3 linked regions of the Homo sapiens genome follow. The protein of the gene in region 3 purifies or fractionates together with the protein of the main gene of each other region. This does not show direct contact. Each region holds a gene or a part of one and is shown on either strand. Other genes may lie near its edges.

Region 1 (3,654 bases), on a different chromosome or scaffold from region 3:
GCCTTTATGTTTTAAAAGGAAACTAGGACTGCTTAGTCAAAGAACCCTAGGGAGCGAAGAACTATCGCACACTCATAGTTCCCTGTTATACCCCGGTCGAGATATATCACTTACACAGTGTGATGAATTCTTTCTGATTCTGGCAGATGAGAGGTCTGAGTCTCTGAGGTTTGGGGCTGTGTGGCAGCTGGTGGCTCTGCCTCTTCAGCTTCACACTTCTTTGGGCTCCCCTGTCAGGAGATAGCAAAAACGAACAGAGCAAAACATTTAGATCTGCTTGGTTCCTTTTCTTCTACCTGGAGCCTGAAAAAGGCAGGGCAGGACATACACAGTACCAGCTCCACACACGGCCCTCTGTATCTGTTATTTCATTTTAGAATAAGGAAAGGAACATGGCTTAAAAATAGGTACTTCAAGAATATTTATGCCAGTAATCATTTTATCAGAATTTTTAATTTTTTTCCTTTTCCTCAGTGATCCTTGTTCTGACAGAATTCTTTTTTGAGAGAACTGAGAAAAGGCTGACTTCCTTTTGGCAGATAAAAGGAGGAGTTATGAGGAAGAATTGACCCTGGGGGCCCTGGAGATAACCCTGCTGCTCAGCCTCATGTAGAACTTCTACGAACCAGGGAGCTGGAAATGAGTTAAGCAGGATTAACAGGTATCCACCACATTTCTACTGAACCTTGTCCAGACTTAACTTTTTAGTTTTATAGCAAAGACAAGAGGGAAGATCTTGCTTAATCCTCCATCTCTGTGTAGGGAGGGGTCACAATAGCCTACCCGCTCAGGCTGTAACCTCTGGGTCACATGCTTTTCAGCTGATTCAGGCTGACTCAGACGCCTTGCTTGGACAGAGGATGAGGAGGTGGAAGTCCTCTCCTTTGGCTCACAGACCTGCAGTTGTGGCACTGGTGGAGTTGCAACCTCCTGACCAGAAGAGGGATCTTTGGTTTCAGTATAGCTGGTGCTGCTGTCCCTGGAGACTCCAGGGCTCAGAGACTAAAACAAAATGAAACACATAACAAGGAAAATTATTGTATATGGTATATATTCAGTAGATTGCTGAGTTTTCCAGTTTCCATGGACCAAATTTTATACTCTGGACCTTTTTGTCTGTGTTTACTCCCATTTTGTCTGTGTTTATTCCCATTTAGTGGTCTCCTTGACCACTTATTTAACAAATTATTAAGTTTTAACTAGATGCTAGATCCTGGGACACACACGTAAAAGGGCATGCCCACATCCTCAAGAAGTTTCCATCTAGTGGAGGAGATGAGTACATAAATTCAACATTCTATCAAGGGACTCAAAATGAAAAAGAACCCCATTTCGGGAATCAGTTAATTGAAAATACGATTCTGAAATGAGGAGAAAGTAATCAGTGAAGGAGAGTAAAGGAGGCTTTTCCTATTCCTTTCAGAAATCATGACAGGCTCTCCAGGGGCTGAAATGAAAACCACTGGAATATGACAGAACATTAATACACCCGGGATTCTCTCATACTCACTTTTCTGCTGTTGCTTGATGCTGAACGAGAACGTGAACGTGACCTTGATCTGGACTCTGATGTTGATCTGGAGCCCATCTTGGGTCTACCACGAGGGTTGGCATGAGTACGTGCCTGGGCTACATCTCTCTGCTTGGATCTGAGCGGTGAATGAGACCGAGAACCTGAACTGTCAGGAGAGCGAGATCTTGATCTAGAACTGGAGGAGGAAGATGAGGAGGACCGGCTAGAGGATGAATCAGCTGACTGTTTCAATCTGTGGCTTGGGAGAAGGGTATGAGAAGCTCTTCTGCCTTCCTTCTGTTCCAAAGATGGCTGTTTCAGACATTCTTCAGTGATTCCTTTGGCCAGTGCTAATTCCTCAATTTTTAGAGGGAGGGGCTGAGCAGATCTGTCTGACTCAGGTTCAAGATCCTTCTGGGCTGAGTAGTCAGCCAGTGTGCTTTTCTGAACCAGAGGCAGGACACTCTCCTCTGGCACTTTCTCTGCTGGAGATTCTGCTTTGGTGTCTGAAGGACTTGACAAAGGAGACAGGCCTCCTACCAACTGGACAGTATGCTGAGATACTAATAGCTCCCTGGTGTCAGCATCTGTATTAGGAGGAGATAACTGAATGAGGACAGCGGGGGCTGGGCCTTCCATGGGCTCTATTTCTTCTTCGCTATGGAGCTGTGGATGAGGTGGTGGAGAAGATGCTTCCTTTGTTAGTAAAGGTGGAGGAGTCTCCTCCTCGCTGGCAGTTTGCTCTGGCAGCGCTACAAGTGAGGCCTTCTTTCGATCTTCAGTCAGTCGAGGAGGGGAAGGAGACTTCGATTTTTCCTTTAAGCCTTGTGAAGATTTTATTTCTCTTTCTTCCTCCTCAAGGGGAGATGTTGTTTTCATTTCCTTCTCCTGCTGCTGTCTGGCCAGATGACTTTTTCTAGCCTCTTCCTGGGATCTTGTAAATCTCCCTCCTCTCTCTAACACCTCCTGTTCCTGGGATCTTGTTTTGGGTCTCTCATCCATCATCTCCTCTGGTTTTACTCTAGGTATCTCTTCCCCTTCTTCCTTAAACTCTTTCAGGATTGGTGCCTCCCTAGATTTTTGTCCCTCATCATCACCTTCCTCTTCTTCATCATCTTCTTCCTCCTCCTCCTCCTCCTCTTCTTCCTCCTCTGTTTTCAAATTTCGATCTGCTCTGACCCTTAGGTTTCTGGAAGGTGTTTCTTGATCCTCTTCCTCCTCAGCAGGTTGGCTGCCCTCAGACAGTTTAGCTGCTCTTGCCTGAAAGAACAGATACACAATGGCTCCAAATGTATTTGCTCACAGTCAACAGAGGAGAGAAAGTATCTAATGAAGACACCCCTAGGAAGGAGAAATTCAATGATATATACTTTCAGCAACAGAAACAGGAGTGACAGGAGACAATCATGACTAACGTAGCCCTTAGGGGAATCAAAACAAAGTGACCAAAAGAAATATCACAATGAAGCTACTTGTATGTAGTTTAAATTTTAGCTTCAAGCACCCCCTTTTTTTTTTTTTCAGTAAAATATTAGCAGAACATCTGGAAAGTAAAAGGGTGGATAGGGGGCTGAAAGGAACTAACCTACTATCAATTAATACGATTATCTTTTTATCATTTTGGTATATTTCTTTTTGTTCTTTCCTCTAATCATTTCCTTTGTACAGTCATAATTACACTACACATAACATTTTTGTATTCTGCCCACTTAGTGTTATATAACTTTAAAGCTTTGATTGAATGGTTAATTATGTCATATCTTGTCTAATAATGTGCTTTAAGAATACAGAGCAGCCTGCTAATTTTCAAATTTAAACTTTTAAAAAATATTCACTTAGAAATCTAAAAGGCAGAGCAGATCTAAATAAAAAGACAAAACGAACAACAAAAAGATGACAAAGAGGAGAAGGAAGATAACCACAAAGAAATCTAGAGGCCAGGCAGTGGCTCATGCCTGTAATCCCAATCCTTTGGGAGGCTGAGGTGGAAGGACTGCTTAAGCCTAGGAGGTCGAGGCTGTAGTAAGCTGTGATTGTGCCACTGCACTCCAGCCTAGGCGACAGAGCCAGACTCTGTCCCAAAAAAGAAAAACAAAACCCCTAAATGTAGAGACATACAAACTCAAAACAAGTCTGAAGAA
Region 2 (3,654 bases), on a different chromosome or scaffold from region 3:
CACCTGAGATCAGGAGTTTGAGACCAGGCTGGCCAACATGGGGAAATGCTGTCTCTACTAAAAATACAAAAATTAGCCAGGCATGGTGGCACACACCTGTAATGCCAGCTACTCAGGAGGCTGAGGCAGGAGAATCACTTAAACCCAAGAGGCAGAAGTTGTAGTGAGCTGAGATCACACCACTGAACTCCAGCCTGGGGGACAGAGTCAAACTCCGTCTCAAAAAAAGAAAAAGAAAAAGTCAGGAGAAAGAAGATTGAGGACTGAGCCCTGGGAAACAACAATGTCCAAAAGGAGAAAGATGAGGAGGAGCAAGCAAAACAGACCATGATGAATGGACTAGAAATGCAGGAGGAAAAGCTTGAGGGAGTGAGGTCCTGAAAGCCAAGTGAAGACGCCGTTAGGGAGGAGACGCCCTCCACTGGCTCAAATATTGCTGACAGATTAAATAAAATGAGGTGTAAGAAAAAATGCATAATTTACAGAAAAAAAATTGTGATAATCTTGAGGAAAAACAATGTTGGAGGACTGCTGAAATTGAAGACGCCGGTGTGAGATTAAGAGTGAATGAAAAGAAAATTTGAGTTCGTGAGTGTGGACAGTTCTTTTAAGGACATCATGCTTAGGAGTCATGACTGAGAATGTTGTAATTTTCTTCCACAGTCATGGAAAAGTAATAGACAAATAGTTTCAAGTTTTATATAACAGGTGTAGTTTTCAAATTTTATATAACAATAATATATTTTAAAGGTTATAAAAATTATACACATGTGGCATTAAAAATGCCAGACTGAGGTGTTAAATTCTTAAAACTATAGAACTAAAAGTCGCCTTGAACATTTCTAGATTACACATAAGCTGATTATCATTTTATTCATGCTTATGCATAAAGACCAAGAAATACTAAAAGTTTCAAGGAGAGTATTTCTTGCTTGATAAAATCAGCCAATTCTAGGACAACTGATACTCATCAAATATACAAAGTAATTGATCACAGCAAAATACTGGGTTCTATTAACAGGAATAAAGTGGGAGAAATGCAGACAATAATCTTATTTTATAAATGAAATTTTTAAAATTATATGAAGTCACTGTGGAAAAATATGGTGAGGTGAATACTGAAATATATCCTTTTCTCAAAGGAAGGATAATTTCACACACGCAGGGCACTTTTACAAATAAGAGTCACTTCACTTGCAGCACCTTCCTTTTAGCACAAGGGTCAGCAAACTAGCACCTTGGGCCAAATCCAGCCCACTGCCTGTTTTTGTAAGTCAAGTATTTTGGAACACAGCCATGCTTATTCACTTTACAGTCCACAGTGTCAATTAGCTGGGTGTGATGTTGCACACCTATGGTCCCAACTAGTAGAGAGGCTGAGGTGGGAGGATCACTAGAGCTCAGAAAGTCAAGACTGCAGTGAGCCATGATCACACAACTGCACTCCAGCCTGGGAAACAGAGTGAGACCCTGTCTCAAAAATAAATTAATTTATATAGTCCACAAAGCCTAAAATATTTACTAACTGGCTCTTTGCAGAAAAAGCTGGCCAACTCCTGGTTTAGCAGATGAAAGATCCTTTGATACATTTTAATAAAAGTTTTACCCAATATACTGAAACGTTTATATTAAATACAGATCCCCATGTACAATCCCTTGGCAATATTCAGATTGAGGGTCCAATATTTCAGCACTCAGGCACTGACATAAAAATTTAATAACTAGCAATCTTGTTGCTAACAAGGTACAGCATCAATATAGCATGTAGCTTCCATTTGCAACACAGGAAATATTACAAGAATTTTAACAAGAACTCTTAAGATGTCATCACTGATGCTTTAAATACACTTTAATTGTGAAATAATCAGTATACTCTAGATCTAACCTCACTTGTAAAAAATGGTTGCATACTACATTAATTTCTGGGTATGAAAATTGAGCTATTTCCTATTGGTAATGATTTACTTTTGATAATGATAATTTCCTATTGATAAGGATCCATCTTTTTGATATAATAATGCTGTAATAAATGTCCTTATACATAAGTATATATGTAACATCTACACAAATATCCTTTACATATATTATATATCCTTATTGTTATACATGTGTTTGTGAATATGCTACTAAATTAATGTTCAAAATGTATTTACCAGCAGTGTATGAAATGTCTTTTACAATGAAACCATTTCTTTTGCAGCAACACAGATGGAGCTGGAGGCCATTATCCTAAGCAAACTAATGCAGGAACAGAAGATCAAATGCCACATATTCTTACTCATTAGTGGGAACTAAATAATGAGAACTCATGGACACAAAGAGGAGAATAACAGGCACCAGGGTCTACTTGAAGGTGGAGCGTCACGGGAGGGAGACGACCAAAAAACTAACTTTTGGTGTTTTGCTTATTATGTGGCTGATGAAATAATCTGCAGTCCAAATCTCCATGATACACTTTACCTATATAATAACCCTGCACATGTACCCCTGAAACTAAAAGAAAAGTTCACTAAAAAGAAAAGAAAATGCCTTTTCCCTCACATTTGCCAATACTGGTTATTTTTCAAATAAATTAATGCCTGGAAAAATGGTAACTCATTGTTCGCTGATTTTCATTTTTCTGATTAACGGGCAAGGCTGAATATCCTAGTAAAACTATAAAATTTGTTCATCATGAATATTAGCCCAAACTAGGGTTAGTTTGACAGCACATAGTTATCTCCTGTTCAATGTTGCCATAGGCTTACCTGTGATACTCTTCACTTTCGTTGTCAGGAAATTGCTGATTTTCAGGTGTTCTGCTCTTCCTTTGAGGAATTAATCCATCATCACCATTGCCAGCAGTGACACCATTACTCAGGTTTTCTAGTAATCCCACATTATTACTTTCATGCTTCTTCATTTCTTCTTCAACCTTGAGTGGGATATTAAGGATAGTTATCACTTTATTGAATAAAAAGAACCTTTTTAATTGATTCTATCAATTGACTCAGTTTGTCATTATTTTAGTCATTAAAAATATTTCACACTTAAATTTGATCATATATATAGAAATATTACCATATAACTTTAAGATGTAATTATCATATCATTAATATATCACAGAAATTTTTGTAAAGTTTGCTTCATTTCTGTTTCAATGAATGAAACAGAATTTTCCAAAATTCAAAAAGGGCCCTCCTTCATTTTATGCTTTTATTCTCAATCACTCTTCAGAATCTTATGTATGTATTTACCCCATTTGACTCATGGGAACACGCAAATAAAAAGACAAAGATGCAAAATGTGTCTTCTGTCTTTACCACCTAGATTTTACATTAAACAGTCAGATTTAGAGGATGACACACTGTGCGGCTTCAGGAACAGAAAGGAAGTTTGCCCTTTTCTGCGCTAAGATATTCTTCTACCCCACTGCCTTTGAGCATTCTTTTTTCATTTGGTTGCTGGGATATCAAAAACATGATGGTGCTCACTGAAAATGGGAGCCAAAGTTTGCCACAACACAAGAAGCAGAGTGAAACTGCTGACGTGCAAGCATGGAATTCCAGAAAATGAGATGCTCCCCAAATTTCACATTGAATAGCCATACAATTTTCTAGCTGGAAGATACACAGAATAAGAAGCTATCTTCTTTAGCCACATTATCTATTGATA
Region 3 (3,654 bases):
GAAACTTTAAAAAAAAAATCAAGAAACAAGAAAATCATGTTATTTAGAGACAAAACACCAGAAAATAAAACCAAAACTAGTGAAAGTAGTTGTGGCAGACTGTCACGGTTACTACTTGAGACCATCACTACAACAGTTACTACTGTTACTACTTGAGACCCTCATTAGGAGACGGGACGAAGGGACGAACATGGAAATGATAAAAAAAAAAAAAAAAAAAAAAAAAGAAACTGTTTTAAAGGAAAGGCCAGGGGAAGAAAAGCTCCCTGCTTCTAGTCAGCAAAGGCAGCCCCCCTGAGCTCCACAGCCCTTCGTATTTATTGGGTAACAAGAACAGGGAGGAGGAGGTAGCAACTGGTCAGCTGCTTAACTGATCGCAGGTTCATATTGTTACTAACAGGCTTCAGATGTACCTAATCACAAGAAACACTGCACTTGGGGCGTGACTGCCTTCAGCATTCCTTCTGGGTGGCATACACAGTTTGTCAGTTTGCCAACATTCTACATTTATGAGAAACATTTTGTTGCTTACTCATATAGCCTCCAGTGGTATACTGAGTTGATCATAACCCTCATTCTTTCGACCTCCAACGTTTCTCCCTTTTTGTTTTTTAATTAATTGAGAAAGGCAACTACAGGCTGTGCAGCCCTTAATTGCCAGTTGGTGGTCCAGCTGATCTTACAACGGGAGGCACAGGAAACCATGGCCAGCATGGCCACAAACATGGAGTCAGGGGTCTTTGCCTGACCCTGACACTAACAGTGTCTCAGCTTCCTGTGTGGTTTTCTTGATCTATCCCCATGTCATGAGGGTTGATGTCAGTGTGACTCCGGTCGGTCCTCATTCCATCTTCGCATTCAGATTCAACTGGCTCATGGCTCGTATTAGGGGAACAAGGCCTGTAGCTAGAATCCATGGATCTCTCCAGTCTTCCATTCCATGGTCGCACACACCTTGAGGGCACCCACACAGTTTGTTCATCTCCTTATGTTGTCAAGCAGACTTGTAACGGGGTTTCTCATTTGTCTGGTTGGTTTTAGTTTTTTCTGTTCCAGCAGAACTTCCTCATTCAAGTCCCTATAGGACCCTGTCTCTATCTGTCCCTGTCTGTCCCTGCAAGTTTCTGCTAGCTTCTGCTGGTCTCTGCTAGTCTTTGCTAGTCTCTGCTAGTATTTGCTAGTCTTTATCTATCCCTGTCTGTCCCTGTCTGTCTCTACGGTCCCTGTTAGTTCCTCCAAGTTGGTGCAAGTCCCTATCTTTCCCTATCTGTCTCTATCTCTATTTATCCCTACTTATCTCTATGTGTCCCTGTAGGCCTCCTCAGGTCCCTTCAGGTCTCTTCAGGTCTCTGTTTGTCACTGATAGTCCCTGTTCGGGCGCCACTTGTGGCACATTGCCACAGTTACTACTTGAGACCTTCACTACAACAGTTACTACTGTTACTACTTGAGACCGTCATTACGAGACTGAAGGAAGGGACAAACATGGAAATAACAAAAAAACAAAAGGAACTGTTTTAAAGGAAGGGCCAGGGGAAGAAGAAAAGAGCTCCCTGCTTCTAGTGAGCAAAGGCAGCCCCTGAGCTTCCACAGCCCTTCATATTTATTGGGTAACAAGAGCAGGGAGAAGGAGGTAAGGATTGGTCAGCTGCTTAATTGATCACAGGTTCATATTGTTACTAACAGGCTTCAGATGTACCTAATCACAAGAAACACTGTGCTTTGGGCATGACTGCCTTCAGCATTCCTTCTGGGTGGCATACGCAGTCTGTCAGTTTGCCAACATTCTGCATTTATGAAAAACAGTTTGCTGCTTACTCATATAACCTCCAGTGGTATACTGAGTTGATCATGACCCTCATTCTTTTGGCCTCCAACAAGTAGTTGCCTCAGGGGAGCAGAAATCTGTCAAGAAGGGAGCTAGGGCACTGGTCTGCTGCTTTTTTTCATAATCCCTGCAGTACTACCTGACTTTCTAAATCATATAAAGCACCCTGGAGAATGCCATTTGCACTTTAAATGAAAGCAAAAAGTGCAAAACCACAGGAAAGGCAGAAACTAAAGGTCGGGGGAGAGCCACATTTTATTCTGATGTGTTTTATCCTCTGGTATATTTTTCTAATATTGAAAAATCAGGCTAGAAACATTACTTTAAATGTCTCTAGTCTGAAAAACAAGATGAAGGGTACTCCCTGTTCCAGCATGATTCAAGAATCACACAACTAAAAGTAGTACTCAGGTCTGCTTCATAATCATACCTTTACACAAAAAACTACATGGGCGAACCCAGTCAGGAAAGCAATCCTGTCTTTTATAAAAGTTAGATACTGCAGATGCCAACAAATTGCAAAAAACTTCAACTTCTACTGAGTAATAACATCGAACAATTAAAAGCAATAACTGGAACTCACAGAAAAAACAAGGGTTTTAGCCATACACAAGCTGGGTGCCCTTGAGCCATTTATTCAATTTTTAAGCCTCAGTTTCTCATCCGTAAAATAAGCACACCAGCTACTCCAAGATGGTGCTGCAAAAAAGAAGCAGGGTTATTAACATATGTAAAGTACCAATTATAGCACCTGGTGTGTAGTCTGTGCTGCAAAACCATTAGCTTCCTTATTTTTTTTTTACATGGTTATTGATTATCAAAGCTTCAGGCCTTACAGGATTACTTACAATGGAACCTAGAACAAAGCTAGAACTGAGCATAAAATGCGTGCGTCAGGGACAGGTTAAGCAAAGCAGCTGATGCGTGACAGCACCAGAAGCAATAGACACAATAGACCCAGTGGACCCAGTGGACCAAGTGCTACACCATCATCTAATTTTTCTAGCCTAAAATAAGGATATTTATATGAAACCTGATTTCTTAATGTTGGCAACTAACAAGTTAAAACACGATGTTGCTGGAAAATATGTGTGCAGGTATATTTCACACAAAGATTTATAAAGGTTACATTTTAATGCCATATGCAGAGGTTTAAACATTGTCAACAAAAATTCTACTCACTAATAGGCTTTTTTCAACAAGTTTACTGTGGTTATAGAGAGAAGAAGTTAGAACATATGCACACAATTTTACATTTATAATCAGTTACCTCTGGCAACATAACAAAAAAGACTACATTATCCCTGTGCTGTTGAAACTAGATCCCAACTGTTTTCCCATATATATGCTCTTTTGTAAATTAACAAAAAGAATGAAGTTAAGACAAGAGTTTCTAAAAGCTCAAACATTATAGATACTGGACTGAAATTGTTAAAAAGTGGTTTTAACTTGTGATCACCATAGGAAATTACTGTTTCATTTCAAAGACTGTACTTCCACACAGATAATTATTCCTGACCACTGCAAAAAATCTGCTTACCACATATTCACCAGTAACCAACCCACTAGGTCTCTTCTTAACCTAACAATTTTTACAGATGCCAGGCACTCTATGAAGCATTTTATAAGCATTAGTTCATTTAATCCTCATGTAACTCTGAGGTAGGTATGATTTTTAACCCCTTACTACAGCAAACGAGGCTTTGAGAAATAATTTGCCCAAGGTCACAATGGCATATGTGGCAGTCTAACCAGCATCAAATAGAGTGGACATGTTACTGATTCCTTCTAATCAATATTCCATCAAAGAAATTTGTAAGGAAATA

The links.
Region 1: the proteins of EPB41L2 (region 3) and ACIN1 purify together in Homo sapiens (affinity purification with mass spectrometry; 2 studies listed by BioGRID and IntAct, with this or other methods). This does not show direct contact.
Region 2: the proteins of EPB41L2 (region 3) and POTEI purify together in Homo sapiens (affinity purification with mass spectrometry; 2 studies listed by BioGRID and IntAct, with this or other methods). This does not show direct contact.

What each region holds. Positions count from the first base shown.
Region 1 is NC_000014.9:23,078,037-23,081,690, forward strand, and holds part of ACIN1 (apoptotic chromatin condensation inducer in the nucleus), read right to left. Parts: exon of another isoform or gene 2,774-3,654; coding exon 1,511-2,773; exon of another isoform or gene 1,424-1,510; intron 1,003-1,423; coding exon 784-1,002; intron 662-783; exon of another isoform or gene 231-661; coding exon 115-230; intron 1-114.
Region 2 is NC_000002.12:130,485,285-130,488,938, forward strand, and holds part of POTEI (POTE ankyrin domain family member I), read right to left. Parts: intron 2,915-3,654; coding exon 2,748-2,914; intron 1-2,747.
Region 3 is NC_000006.12:131,053,234-131,056,887, forward strand, and holds part of EPB41L2 (band 4.1-like protein 2), read right to left. Parts: intron 1-3,654. UniProt on the Homo sapiens protein: Required for dynein-dynactin complex and NUMA1 recruitment at the mitotic cell cortex during anaphase.